Linked DNA regions of Homo sapiens. The protein of the gene in region 1 purifies or fractionates together with the protein of each later gene. This does not show direct contact. Each region holds a gene or a part of one and is shown on either strand. Other genes may lie near its edges.

Evidence for each region. The genes of interacting proteins can lie anywhere in the genome.
Region 2: the proteins of DNAJB11 (region 1) and SDF2 purify together in Homo sapiens (affinity purification with mass spectrometry; 5 studies listed by BioGRID and IntAct, with this or other methods). This does not show direct contact.

The regions. Positions count from the first base shown.
Region 1 is NC_000003.12:186,572,949-186,582,260, forward strand, and holds part of DNAJB11 (dnaJ homolog subfamily B member 11 isoform 1 precursor), read left to right. Parts: intron 1-2,891; coding exon 2,892-2,989; intron 2,990-4,719; coding exon 4,720-4,852; intron 4,853-5,036; exon of another isoform or gene 5,037-5,119; intron 5,120-8,422; coding exon 8,423-8,565; intron 8,566-9,046; coding exon 9,047-9,129; intron 9,130-9,312. UniProt on the Homo sapiens protein: As a co-chaperone for HSPA5 it is required for proper folding, trafficking or degradation of proteins.
Region 2 is NC_000017.11:28,647,048-28,653,420, forward strand, and holds the end of SDF2 (stromal cell-derived factor 2 precursor), read right to left. Parts: intron 4,496-6,373; coding exon of another isoform or gene 4,439-4,495; intron 2,230-4,438; coding exon 1,942-2,229; 3' UTR 1,299-1,941; downstream 1-1,298.

The sequences.
Region 1 (9,312 bases):
TAATTCAGTTAAATTTCTTTTTTACATAAATCAAACAGAGCACAGTTTTAATTTGATTTTGCAACCTCTAATCTGGGGATCAAAACACTCTCATGTGTATCATCTCATTTAATCTTCACTAGGACACCAGGAAATATATTAGAGCTAGGCATATTTTTATTCTCATTTTCTAAATGGACACAGAAAAAAATTAATTGAACTAAAAGTCATAGAGCTAAAACTCCTGAATTTAAGTTTAAATTCTTGTATATTGAGAAGGCTAAAAACAAATTGAAAAATATTTTAGGAAGACACAAACCTTGAAAGGAAGGAATCCCAAGATCTCTAGATTAAAGAAGCAATGGAATTGAAACAGTGAGTTATACCCAGGTGAACCCAAGAGCTGTTGGGGTCCTTTCATCTTTCAACACCTTCAGGGATCCTATGGGGCAGAAATTCTTTTTTATTTTTTTTTGAGACAGAGTCTCGCTCTGTCTGCCAAGCTGGAGTAGAGTGGCACGATCTCGGCTCACTGCAAGCTCCGCCTCCTGGGTTTTACGCCATTCTCCTGCCTCAGCCTCCTGAGTAGCTGGGACTACAGCTGTGCACCACCATGCCCAGCTAATTTTTTGTATTTTTAGTAGAGACAGGGTTTCACTGTGTTACCCAGGATGGTCTCGATCTCCTGACCTCATGATCCACCCGCCTCGGCTTCCCAAAGTGCTGGGATTACAGGCATGAGCCACCGTGCCTGGCCAAGGGACAGAAATTCTTAACCTGAGGCACATCAATAAACTTGGGAAGGTTAATGGCCCATCCTAAATTATATGTAATATTTTGTTTCTTGTTGATAATATGCATTCTATATTTTGCACTGTATTTTCCATGAATAGTCCCCTTGTTTGCTAGGAACCTAATACTCAAAAACATTTTCTAGGGAAGCTGAATTTACCATGCTCTCTAAAGAATCTTCACGTTCTTTATCAATGACCTAGGCAGGCTATACAAAGGTCAGTCATGAAATCGTGGCTTATTTAACTATAACAATCCTTTTAGCCACTAGTTCAAATTTCTGTTTTCTTTTTATCATTCAAGCTTGATTGCCTTTAGTCTTAGGTAAATTAGTGTTCACAAATTAGAATCCGAGTACAGTTATGAAGAATCTTTTGTGAATACAAATTTGTTTTCTCTACAGAGCTAGGATCACTGCTGGCATTTTAATTACTTGAGAATCTGTGTATTGGTTGGCCAATCAACTAAAAACCTTTTTTCTTTTAAAATAGTTTCCAAGACCATAGAATAAAATTGCATTCCTTGATGGAAGAAAAGTGAGGAGGAAGTAAATGATAATGACTTCAAGAGTAGTTTTTAGGGGGTTATTACAGAAGCCTCTGATGTCTAAAAAGAAACTGACTTAAAACTAGTCTTTGGGGGTTTTGAAATGGTGTTTTTTATAGTCTCAAATGCAGGGTTCATTTATTTGTGAAGATCAGATCAGAGAAGTAGACTAAAAGTGAAAATATTGGAGATCCAGTTAATAATAAGGGTTTTTTTTTTTTTCAAGTTAATTGTGCCCATTTCTGCTTCCCCAAAGTACCTATTTTCTAAAGATACTTGTGAAAACATGCTTTCCTCTCCCTTTTTCTTTCATAGTGGCTGTAATCAAGTACTGTGGTCACTTCTGGAATAACCCATTTGCCTTTGCTTTTAAGAATGTTCACTCTCTTGTATACTCAATTTCTATTTATCCTTTCAAGGATATCTTAAATGTTAATACATTTTTGCCATGACTCCTTACACCTCATTTGGGCCCTAAGCCAAAAATGTGTCCTGTGTGAATATGCCTTTCTTTTAAGTCAACAAGCCCCGTCTACTTTGAACCTCTCTTTTTCTGGGCCACCATGAGTGTGGTTTTGAAATAACTCTCTCCTTCAGACTCTTGTCTAAGTAGGAGTTTATAAATATCAAAGGAAGATTTTAAAGCCATTTAATTTTCACAAGTATATATGTGCATATATATCAGATTGCTCTAAATAAAAGAGAAAGTTTTTTTTTGCATGTTGAAGGCAAATTTTGAAAAGGATGGAAGCTTATTTTGTTGTTACATTCTTTAATATACAGAGAGAAAGCATATAGTCATGATTGTGTATGTAGTTCTCTGAAACTTAAAACTTCAAGAATTATTTCAAGCAATGAAATTGACCTTGAATAACCTTCATAGAGTATTTTTACTTACTACTCTTTCTGCATTTCAAACTCAGGACATTACAAACTTAAACATATATATATATGGCAGGCAAAATTCTTCCACAAATGGATTTCTGCATATACCAAAAAATGAAAAAAGGAGGATGAAAAGATATCAGTGTAGGCCTCTCTGGAGGGCCTGTCATTTGATTTCCTTGACTTGACAATCTCCTAATACATGCGCGCGCGCGCGCGTGTGTGTGTGTGTGTGTGTGTGTCTGTGTGTGTGTGTTTTGGGTAGGGGGTGTTATAGACCTGTGGGGCCAAGTTGTTCTGAAGGCAGTATAGTGGTTAACAGCATAAGCACCAAAGTCAAACTGCATGGGAAGTAAACCTGAGGAATCCGTCTTAACTCTTTCCTGTCACCACCCTGACCTTCACAGCTGCATTGCTAATCTCAGGTATTATTTTTTAGTGACTACACGAGTTTTGAGAACTTTAAATTAAAAACATGAATGGAGCAATGTGGAATGAACAGTGCATCAAAGAATTTAGTCTTAGAGAAAATAACTTTGTAAATATGCCTTAATACAGTACATAATGGAAACTGCATTCTATTAAAATTTTAGACCCACTGTCAAAGTAAAAACAAACATAAATATGACTGTGCCTTAACTGGATATTACCAACTCATGATCTTTTCCTCCACTGGCTTTTATCCCCAGGTTCTGTCAGATAGTGAGAAACGGAAACAGTACGATACTTATGGTGAAGAAGGATTAAAAGATGGTCATCAGAGCTCCCATGGAGACATTTTTTCACAGTGAGTAATTTACCCATCTGCAAAGTGTTAGTGTCTGAGAGAGGGTCACTTAGCGATTAAAGAATTATTCTCATTCCCTAGTTCAGAAACTTTTGATGAACAGTACAATTTAGCTGATCCAAAGATCAATTATTGTCCTCCCTGTGGGAAGATAGTCTTCTATTTTCACAAAGCTTCAGGAAAGACTGATGGCACTGAAAGGACATTCCATCTAGCCAACCATATCAGTTAAATCAGTGCAGACAATTCACGGGGACATGTGTTGGAAATCAGTTCATCCTTGCCTACTTGCTACCTTGCAATCTGCAAACCACTTAATGAGCAAAATTATTGTTAGCAGAGATAGAAAAATTCCTGCTCCCATACCCAGAGCTGCCTCTCTTTCGTGCTATCAACAAGTGAGGGTGATTATAATAACCAGCATTAGGGGAAGGAATTAGGGTAGAGGACCTTTATCTCTTGCTTTCTGGGAGTGCTGGGTGGTTGGAATAATAAACACTTTCTTCCTCACTCTTTGAACCTCTCTTTATTGAGCATTTGAATTTCCACATTCCCTGATGATTACATATACTAAGAGACTTTAATCTGGGGTTTCAGGTCTGAAATTATAAACAAAAAGATGTTCGAATCTGCATTTTTATGGGGAGAGTTCATTGTTTTCTTCAGATTCTCAAAGGGTTCTGTGAACCCTTCCCCAAAAGAAGTAAGAATCACTGTTGCATATAGTAGTTACCACCATTTAGTGCTTGGTTGAGGGGCCTGGGGTGGGGGAGTAGATTTTTAGGGTCTGTAAAGATGTGTGAGTAACATGATTAGGACATCTTTTCCCCCCGCCAGGATCAATTTGGCTGGCTGAAGTGATCCCTAGGGAATACCAGAAAGAGAAACAGCTTCCCCAGCCCCCACCCTGTTCTTTCCCCTTGCCTTTATTTAAGATTCAGGGAATTCATTCACCTGAGTTGGTTGGTGGGAGAGGGAGTTATATAGTTATCATCTTCGCTATGCTAATATACAAGGCTTCTTAATAACACCAAAAATTAACATTAGATTAAACCACCTGTAGGATTGAAGGTCACCTTTTTTGTTAATCTCAAGTTACTCTTGTTACTTACAAAAATTAGTTTGGGTCTTATAGAGGCTAGAACTTCCTTCTCCTTAAGCACTAGGATTTTACTAAGGCTGATGCTTTTTTAGCTTATTTAATTACATACTCAAGATTTTTGTGTAGAGCAGTAGCTTCTTTCAACAAGTTAGCTTCTAAAAAGCATGTAAAGAGAACACTACATATGTTAAAATTACCGATAAAAATTTCTTAAATTAACCATTACATTTAGCATTACACAAGTTTATGTATACTATACTCTTTCTCAATAAGTCCACCATATTCAGATTTTTCCCAATATTGAAAGATTATTATTTCATTGGTTGGGTCCAACATTGAATTCATTGGCATACTGTGTGTGTATGTACTGTACTATATGTATGGGCTATATTTTGTTAAAAAGTGGATTTTTTTGTAGTAAGGGACCGTATAGTTACAACATGGTTGATAGTATATAAATTTAAAATTATGTATGATAGTTGACTCCATTGTATTAAAAAATACCTTGTAGTTTTGCACAATGCATTGATAGAAACAATAGTTTATCAACGTAAAGAAAATGAGTTAATTGTGAAACATAGAGTCTTGATTTTTTTTTTTTTCCTGATGATTTTGCACTTATCTTTAGCTTCTTTGGGGATTTTGGTTTCATGTTTGGAGGAACCCCTCGTCAGCAAGACAGAAATATTCCAAGAGGAAGTGATATTATTGTAGATCTAGAAGTCACTTTGGAAGAAGTATATGCAGGAAATTTTGTGGAAGTAAGTTCAAACAATATAGCTGTTCATATTGACTCCCAGAACTTGCACTTTTGACTAAAAATAAGAGGTTTATATGTACCTTCTCTGTCTTTTTGAGGGTAAGAGAGAGTGATCAAATGCACAAAATTGAATTAATTATAATGCTTGGTTCATGATACACTGATGTCATTGTTTTATCACCCAGCTTAAGAACTAAGTAAAACATTACCATGACTTAATCTACCTACATGCTACTTCCCTGTTCCATTACCCTGCCTCCCTTCAAAGGTAACTACTGTATTGAGTTATGTCTTTATTGTTCTTTTGCCATTCTTACTTTATCATGTATATATGAATACCTGAATAATATATTGTTTATTATATTGTTTTTGATTTTTTAGAAATGGTATTTTATTCATTATTTTCTGGGACTGGTTATTTTCACTCACTATTATGTTACTAGGATTCACCCTTGTTGCTTATTGCTATATTGTGACCATAATTTATTAATAGGCATTTTTGTTTCTTCCAGTTTTATTCAATTCCAAACAGCGCTTTTATGAACATTTTAATCCATATTTCCAGGTTCAGATGAACAAGAATATCTCTTGGGTGGATATGCTTGAGAGTAGAATTGCTGGGTAATATGAACCAATGTTCATTTTTACAAGTTAATACTGTATTGCTTTTGAAATTGATTGTACTGATGCTTCTACATGCAATTTATGAGATCCTATAGATTCACTGCCTCACTAATACTTGGAATTATTAGACTTCTTAATTTTTGCTCATCAAATGGGTATAAAATATCTCATTATGGTCTTGTTTTACATTTTTTAAATTACCAATTAGGATCAGCATCTCTTCCTGTGTTTATTGGCCATATTTGTTTCCTCTCTTGTGAAATGCCTGTTCTTTCTTTTGCCTCTTGCTTATTGATTTCTAAGAGTACTTCACTCTTGCTGCTAATTCTTTGTTGGCTGTATGTAATGCAGATATAGGCTATCTGTTTGTAACTTGTCTTTTCATTATGTTTAAGATTTATTTCAATTTTCAGCAAACAGAACTAATTAATGTAATTAAATCTATCAGTCTTTAATGGTTAGTTTTTGTGTCTTTTTAAAGAAATTCGTTTTTGTTCTAAAATAAGAAAGCAGCCATGTGCAGTGGAGCACACTTGTAATCTCAGCTACTCAGGAGGCTGAGGTAGGAGGATTGCTTGAGGCCAGGAGTTTGAGGCTATCATGTCCTGTGATTGCATCTGTGAATAGCCACTGCACTCTAGCCTGGACAACATAACTGAAACTCATCTCTGGAAAAAAATTTTAAAATAAAATAAGAAAGCTGTTCACCTATATTTTCTGCTAAAACTCTGGGATCTTTTAATATGAGGTTATTCATCTTTTTTAAATTCTGGAAAATATGTCTCATTATTTTTTACAATTCTATCACTCCTACTTCTGTCTGCTCTTAACTTTCTTTTAAATACAAAAAATAAATTTTCTTTATCCTTCACTGCTTCCTTCTGGGAGGTACCTCATTTTGATCTCCCAGCTTACTACTTCAGTCTTCAGCTATATCCATTCTAATAATAACCCATCTGCTGTGTTTTAATTTCAACTCATATTTTTATGCATAATATTTCTACTTGATTCTTGCATTATTTCTTACTCTATATCATTTTACTAATGCCTTCCCTCCTTAAGTATTATCATGCTTGTTTTAAGTTCCTGGTCTGTCTAATCTTTTTTTAAGCAAAGTACAGTTGCTTAAAATATATGTGTTATTCAGTTTGTTGTCTTTTGTGGGGCAGATGATAGACCTTCTCAGGTATCTAGCTGTCTTGGCCTTTGAGCTGATATTCCCTTACAGGTACCAGCAACTACCTTTCCCTGCAGAGCATCATGGGCTGAGCCCTGGCCCACTGGTTTTAACTGTGTTTTGTTTGGTGTCTTGGGGTGTTTTTTGTTTTGTTTGCTGTCTGGAGTCTTTTGTTTTCTGCAGTCATGGGAAACAGTTCAAAACAGCCCTCTATCTGTGGGATTTTCTCATATATTCTGTGCTGTAGTTACTGTTTCCTGGAATCCATGTTTTCTTGTAGTTTTTCCAGGATACTGGAGGAGACAGCCGGTAGCCTGTGCATATGTGCCATCTTGACAAGAAGCGTATTCTTCTTAGTTGTAGCTGCTTCTCTGAATAATTGAAAGAAGAGATATAGACAATCACAGAAGATGCAACTGACTTGTAATACTGTTGAGGCTGCAGGAGAAAAGGGCATTAAAAATATTCATAAACCAGTGAGGTTGTTTAGATGGGAGGAAAGAGGTGAGCCTAATTAGCGCCCATGTTCCCTTCCAAGCCTGTTCTGCAGTTGTCACTAATACACAGTAGACATCACTTTTTGCTGTTAGTGTGTTCCCGAACAAACTCTTTTTTAATCCAACTATTGTAAAGGCTGTAAATGGCTTTGCTGGTTCAGTAACCCCATGCTAAATTCTTTTTTTCCTTGTTTTCAATCCTGCTCCTTCTGTATGTAAATTATTTTTTAAAGAAAAAAAAATACCTTGAGAAATAGGATAGCACAATGGTTAAGGAGCATGGACTTTGCAGCTAGACTGCCTAGTTTAGAATCCTGGCTCTGCCATGTATTAGTCATGTGGCCTTGGTCATGTTACTTAACCTTTCTATACTTCTGTTACCTCACCTGTAAAATGGGGATAATAACAGTACCTGTCTCATAGAGTTGTGAGGGTTAAATGAATATGTAAAAGTGTTTGGCACATGGCTTGGCATGTAGTAAGTGCTATAAAATGTTTGCTCTGATTACTGTTATTGTTGCTATAATTTACTCTGTTGACCTGGGCCTTTCATATGTTGGTAGGCTTTAAAGGATTTTTCTCCAAGCATTCGTCATTCTGCTGCGTGAGCACATACCTTGTGATTAGATGTTTGACTATTTAAACAGGCAAAACTAGGAATACATTTCTGCATATATATCAATTTTACATTCTTAGAGGGATCAGAATGTTTGATTGCAGTCAACTACAAAGAGATGGTCATTGTTTCTCTTCCTACATGTTAAAGTATCTGAATGGAGATAGCTCCAGAAAATAGTCCTGGATTGCATTTCCTGAAATAAGGAGACATTTTCAGTAGGTTAACCAGAGGATTGGATAGTAGCCACATACCAGGTTTTGAAGGTAGTGATTGTTCCTCAGGGGTTATGCTTTACACAGCTCGGATTTCCTAAAAGATAATCATTACATGAAGTACTTTAACTCAGTAGCATTTAGTTGTGGCTTAGAAATGCTGATATCATACACTTTATTTTTCGGTTCTCTTGTTTCTTACTCCCGTCTCTACTTCTCCAGCTTTAGAATTTGAGTCATTTAAGTATGTGTTTGCTTCATTCCTGTTTGGGGGCTGATTTGTACTCTTCAAAGAGTTTTGTCAGCTTTAGATCTCTGAGGGATAGATTGCCAGAGAAGGGGAAGTTTCAGTCCAGGCATATGTGCAGAGCCTTGATCAATTGAGGAAAGGAAAGGCTGTTTTACACAAGAGAGAAGCTGATGTTGTTTATGCACTTCCTAGGTAGTTAGAAACAAACCTGTGGCAAGGCAGGCTCCTGGCAAACGGAAGTGCAATTGTCGGCAAGAGATGCGGACCACCCAGCTGGGCCCTGGGCGCTTCCAAATGACCCAGGAGGTGGTCTGCGACGAATGCCCTAATGTCAAGTAAGTGAAAGCACCTTCTTTGTTCTACCAAGAAACACTTGTTAATTTCGTTCATCTAGTCAAACACTAATGGTCCATACTAGATCTTTCTCTGTCCCCTCCCCACTGCCATGTTCTGCAAAAGGATAGAGCAAAACAATGTACATTTTTTTCTGAAGTATTTGTAAATATCTCCTTTTATGTTTCTGAACTAACAAGCAGTGCCCTTTATTTCTGATACATTTTCAACAAGTATTAATGCTTCATTTTCTTCCTTCTTGTACTATTAGAGCAGCCTTATATGTTTATAAATGTATAGTAGCTTCACCCTGGATTTTAGCATATAGAAGATGTAAATGATTATCAGATAGTTTTGTCAAGTAGAGGCACACTACAGTCTTCCAAGAAAAAGCTCTGATAAAATAGGTATAACTTTATCTATATCTGATGTTTTGTTTATATTTTCATTATTTTTCTCCTCTTTTAATTCTCTTTACCTCAGACTAGTGAATGAAGAACGAACGCTGGAAGTAGAAATAGAGCCTGGGGTGAGAGACGGCATGGAGTACCCCTTTATTGGAGAAGGTGAAATATTGATATTTGATTTTTTGATTGTGATAACTTTTTGCTCTCTGCTTGTTTGTGAATACCTTTCACCCCTGCCTTACTCCATCTTAATGTTCACATAGTAAACGCATATATAATTTCCAACACTCTTCGGCCAATTTTAGGATATACAAAGCCTTTTGTTTACCTGAAGCAGTAGCA
Region 2 (6,373 bases), on another chromosome or scaffold:
TACCATGATTGGAAGCTACAGGAGCAAATTTTCTGCAATTGACACAGGAAAGGAGGAAATCAGGTAGGCAGAGGACAAAAGTAGTTTTCTATCCACCTTTTTAGAGAGATATATCTACGTTTGTCCAAAAAACAGGATTTGTTTTCCAAAAGCTAAACACAATCGTAGTGCACTTAAAAAAACCTGAGTCAGAAACAGCTGGATTCCTATTCCAAAATGATTTATTAGTTTTAAGAATTCAGGCCGGGCACGGTGGCTCACACCTGTTTTCCCAGCACTTTGGGAGGCCAAGGTGGGCGGATCACAAAAGGTCAGGAGTTCAAGACCAGCCTGGCCAATATGGTGAAACCCCATCTCTACTAAAAATACAAAAATTAGTCAGGTGTGGTGGCGGGTGCCTGTAGTCCCAGCTACTCAGGAGGCTGAGGCAGGGGAATCACTTGAACCTGGGAGGCGGAGGTTGCAGTGAGCCGAGATTGCACCACTGCACTCCAGTCTGGGCGACAGAGTGAGACTCCATCTTAAAAAAAAAAAAAAAAGAATTCAGGCAGTAGGCCAGGCATGGTGGCTCACTCCTGTAATCCCCAGCACTTTGGGAAGACACAGCATAAGGATCACTTGAGCCCAGGAGTTCCAGACCAGCCTGGGTAACATAGTGAGACCTCATCTCTACGATAAATCAAAAACTGACACAGGAGGATCAACTTGAGCCCAGGAGGTCAAGGCTGTAATAAGCCATGATTGTGCCCCTCCCACCTAGGTGACAGAGCAAAGAACTTGTCTCAAAAAAAAAAAAAAAAAAGAATTCAGGCAGTTACTCAACTGCTGCACTGATAAAAATGCAGTATTACCCTATATGAATTCTGTGAAGATTAAATGAGGTAAGATCTATAGGCCGGGTGCGGTGGCTCACGCCTGTAATCTCAGCACTTTGGGAGGCTGAGGCGGGCGGATCATGAGGTCAGGAGATCGAGACCATCCTAGTTAATACAGTGAAACCCTGTCTCTACTAAAAATACAAAAAAATTACCCTGGCGTGGTGGCGGGTGCCTGTAGCACCGGCTACTTGGGAGGCTGAGGCAGGAGGATGGTTGTGAACCCAGGAGGTGGAACTTGCAGTGAGCCGAGATCGCGCCACTGCACTCCAGCCTGGGCGACAGACCGAGACTCTGTCTAAAAAACAATAAATAAAAAAAAAGATCTATAATATGGTACCTAGTATTTAGCAGTGAATAAATACTGGTTCGTTCTTTCTACCCCTACACCTTTTTCTCATCTGCAGTAACAGATACAAAGCAAACATTTCACTGGCTATTTATTATGCTGTATTCTCTGAGAGTTTTTAGCTATAATTAGTCAAAGATCTATTAAAGATGAGATGCCTGGAGAGAAGTCAAAGTAGAGGGAGAAAAGGTTTGTATGCAAGAAAAGCTCTTAAAAGGGCCCACATTGGAGCTTCATAGCGTCTCCAAAGAGTCTTAGGACTCAAAGGATTAAGCAGCTAATGAAATAGCACACCTAATAAATAACAACACAGTGACTCATAATAAAATTATTGTTTTTATCATTTTGGAGAGAGAAAATAGGGGGAAAATCACATACATTAACAGTCCATGATGCCAAGCTCCTGAAGAGTAAAAGTTTCCCAGCTAAGAGGGATGTTTCCCTCAGTTTGTTTTATCAGTACTAATAAAAAGCATCTGCCCCTTTACCAGCAAGTCCTCTACTCAGAAAGAACTGACCCACGCAAGTCTGGGAGAGTGACTAGTTCAAATGTGCAGGGCTGAAGCTTCCAAACACAGCCACTATTTTCTGTTGTATATCTTCATCTCAATGGTGACATGGCCACTGCCCAAGGAACTTGTGGCAGGGATCCCAAGGTGAGGCAGCAACAGATGTCTGTGAACATTGTGCGTTAACAGTGGCTCAGAGCCTCTAGATTCACAGCTCTGCATGGTGGGCTTCTGCCTTCAACAACTCACTGGGCTTCATGAAGATGCCTTCCATGGCTTTCCAGTAGTTGTTCTGACTTGGCTGGGCCATGCCATGCACCTCTTTTTGCCCACTGATAGGTCGACCATATTGTTCTCCTGTGACAGACAGCAGTACCTCAGTGGAAGAGTGTTTGAACCGCACCTCACCATCTCTCACCCAGTAGGGTCCATTACAGAGCACTGTCCAGTCATCCAGATAATCACCTTCACCTTCCTCACCAAAAGCACTCACTTCCTAGAAAATACAGAAGGTAGTAACATCAGCATGGCTGACAAGGGCTTGAAAAGGGGTGGGAGGCAATGGGAAGAAAAAGAAGGCCACCTTGAAGTAAAAAATCAGAGGGGCCAGGCTTATGCCTGTAATCCTACCACTTTGGGAAGCTGAGCAGGGCAGATCACTTGAGCCCAAGAGTTTGAGACCAGCCTGGGCAACATGGTGAAACGCTATCCCTAAAAAAAATACAAAAGAAATTAGCTGAGGTCAGGAGTTCAAGACCAGCCTGACCGACATGGAGAAACCCTGTCTCTACTAAAAATACAAAATTAGCTGGGTGTGGTGGCACATGCCTGTAATCCCAGCTACTCGGGAGGCTGAGGCAGGAGAATCGCTTGAACCCGGGAGGCGGAGGTTGCGGTGAGCCGAGATCACACCATTGCACTCCAGCCTGGGCAACAAGAGCAAAACTCTGTCTCAAAAAAAAAAAAAGAAAAAAAAAAAAGAAATTAGCTGGGCATGGTGGCACATGCCTATGGTACCCAGCTACTACAGCTATCACCTAAGTCCAGGGGATCAAGGCTGCAATGAGCTGTGATCATACCACTGCACTCCAGCTTGGATTACAGAGCAAGACCCCATCTCAAAAAAAAAAAAAAAATTCAGCTGCTTTCCAGTGTTGTTATTTTATTTATTTATTTATTTATTTATTTTGAGACAGAGTATCGCTCTTGTTGCCCAGGCTGGAGTGCAATGGCGCAATCTCGGCTCACCACAACCTCCGCCTCCCAGGTTCAAGTGATTTTCCTGCCTCAGCCTCCCTAGTAGCTGGGATTACAGGCATGTGCCACCATGCCCGGCTAATTTTGTATTTTTAGTAGAGACAGGGTTTCTCCATGTTGGTCAGGCTGGTTTCGAATTCCCAACCTCAGGTGATCCTCCCGCCTCAGCCTCCCAAAGTGCTGGGATTACAGGCATGAGCCACCGTGCCCGGCCACTCCAGTGTTGTTTAAACCATGAACCATGGAAAAAGACGAAAGACATAAAGGACATAGGAGGAAAAAAATTCATTGCTATAAGATTATGGTCCATGGTTCTTATCTGAGTCATGGCATCAAAAAGAAAGGAAAAAAAAAAGATTATGGTCCAAACACTTATTTTGCAATTAATACTATAATTGCCTTATATTTTCTATTACAGTGTTAAAACAGAATTTCTTTTTTTTTTCTTTTTAAGAGTTGGGATTGTGGCCAGGTACGGTAGCTCATGCCTGTAATCCCAGTAATTTGGGAGGGCGAGGCGGGCAGATCGCCTGAGGTCAGGAGTTCAAGACCAGCCTGGCCAACATGGTAAAACCCCATCTCTACTAAAAATACAAAAATTAGCCAGGTGTGGTGGCAGGCGCCTGTAATCCCAGCTATTCGGGAGGCTGAAGCAGGAGAATCGCTTGAACCTGGGAGGCGGAGGTTGCCGTGAGCCGAAGGTTGCAGTGAGCCGAGATTGCACCACTGGACTCCAGCCTGGATGACAAGAGTGAGACTTTGTCTCAAAAAAAAAAAAAAAAAAAAAAAAAAAACAGTTAGGGTATCTTGCTCTGTTGCCCAGGCTGGAGTGCAGTGCCTCAAGTGGTCTTATGGCCTCACCTCCTGAGTAGCTAAGACAACAGGCATATACCACCACACCCAGGTAATTAAAAGTTTTTTGGTAGGCAACTGTGTTGCCTTGGCTGGCCTCTAACTCCTGGACTTAAACGATTCTCCCCACTTGGTCTTTTAGGGTGCTGGGATTACAGGTGTGAGCCACCGTGCTGGCTTTAAAATACTTTACTTTTTTGAGACAGCATCTCGCTCTGTCGCCCAGGCTGGAGTGCAATGGCACAATCTCGGCTCTCTGCAACCTCCACCTCTTGGGTTCTCATGCCTCAGCCTCCAGAATAGCTGGGATTACAGGCATGTGCTACCACACCCAGCTAATTTTGGTATTTTTTAATAGAGATGGGGGTTTCACCATGTTGACCAGGCTGGTCTCAAACTCCCAGCCTCAAGTGATCCACCTACCTCAGCGTAGTAAAGTGCTGGGAGTACAGGCATGAGCCACCACATTCTGCCCTTAAAATACTTTATATCTCTTGTTATTTGACTTTAAATATTACTGCTTCATTCTCTTAACTAGATTTTAAATGACCTGATGACAAGTTCAAAAGGGAATGGACTCTGGGAGTCAGGCTGACCTTGAATCTCAACTTGATCCCTTCTTCTGTAAATCCTTTGAGCCTTTGTTTTCTCCTCTATAAAATGATCACAATATCACCTTACAGAGCAACTGTGAGAATTAAATGAGATAGCAAATATTAACTGAGCAAAACATAGCAAGTTTTCTACATTCTTTTCTTTCTTTCTAATAAGGCAGTGAGAGAGAAAGCAAGTTCTCTATATTCTACTCCTCATCTAAATCCCATCTTCCTTAAGGCCAAATATTCAGTTTCTATACGATGGCAATTAAAAAATTACTGATTATTTCAGAAGTGTGTGTGTGTGTGTGTGTGTACACTCTACTTGATAAAATTGTTCCCAGGAGGGTACCAGTATGTAATTCTGATACTGCTATATTTGTATACTGGAACTGAACTGAAGTTCAATACATGGATGGCAGATGGTAGGAACAAGGTATCTTACTGTTGGAGTGGGAATTTACAAATTAGCACAGGGAGGAGGCTAGGACGATCTATGTGGTAATGGATTACAGCTAAAGACATCAATAAGAACACTAGCCAGGCACAGTGGGGCATGCCTGTATCCCCAGCTACTTGGAAGGCTGACGCAAGAGGACTGCTTGAGCCAAGGAGTTCGAGGCTCTAGTGCACTATCATCACACCTGTGAGTAGCCACTGCACTCCAGCCTGAATAACACAGCAAGAACCCATCTTAAAAAAAAAAGAAAAAGAAAAAGAAAGCTCATTTAACTTAATATATGTAGATACAGATGGCTATGCAAATAAAAATTTATAGATATGTAATATATACACGAGTAAGCACACACAGGTAACAATTCTTTATTTTTTTAATTTTTTTTTGAGACAGAGTCTCGCCCTGTCACCCAGGCTGGAATGCAATGGTGCAATCTCGGCTCACTGCAACCTCCGCCTCCCAGGTTCAAACGATTCTCCTACCTCGGCCTCCCAAGTAGCTGGGATCACAGGCTCCCGCCACCATGCCCAGCTAATTTTTGTACTTTAGTAGATACGGGGTTTCACCATGTTAGCCAGGCTGGTCTCGAACTCCTGACCTTGTGATCCACCCACCTCTGCCTCACAAAGTGCCGGGATTATAGGTGTGAGCCACTGCGCCTGGCTTACAGTTATTTATTCTGTCAAGTGAGAGGGCCTAAAAGAAACACTCCAGTAGCAACAAGCTTACATAAGGCCTAGAACTTGGTTTTAATATCATTCTCCAATAAAAGGAAGCAGAGCTCCTTGGAGAAACAGCTGATTCTAGTACTGGAGCAAGAAATAAACAAGATGAGCCTGGAGCATCTTTTGGTGCCAGAAAGGAAAGAAGTGCTTTAAAGTGCAGGCACATATACACAAAAACACAATGGGATACTGCCAATGGACACAAAGCCAGCTGAAAGAATTCCCAATGGCCAAAGTTGGAACAATTTGAGCAACAAAATATAGTAGCATTAGATTATAACGAAGTATAAACTATCCATAAGTTTATACTAATGTAAATAACTGAATAAATAAATAAATTGGGGAAAAGAGACAAATCCCCAATATGGAAAAATCCCAAATAAAATATGTAGATATTCCACCCTAATGTAGACAGAGTATAACTCTCCAGTCTGTAAGAGTGAAATGCACATAGTGACTTTCTTCCAAAAAGTGCATGGAAAGGGGGAAAATGAAAAGAATAACTTTACAGGAGAAACCTAACGAACAAACACTACTTCAGCCAGGTAATCAAGGTCCACATCAACAGTCATAAATCATAAAGATAGTATGTACCCCTGATATGATGGGATACAAATGGCACTTTACCTCTGTGATCTTCCTCCCAAACCCTTTATAAGTCCGGTCTAATCACAAGAAAAACAAATTCCAACAGAGGGGCAATCTACAATACACCTGACCAGCACTCCTCAAAGCTGTCAAGGTCATCAAAAA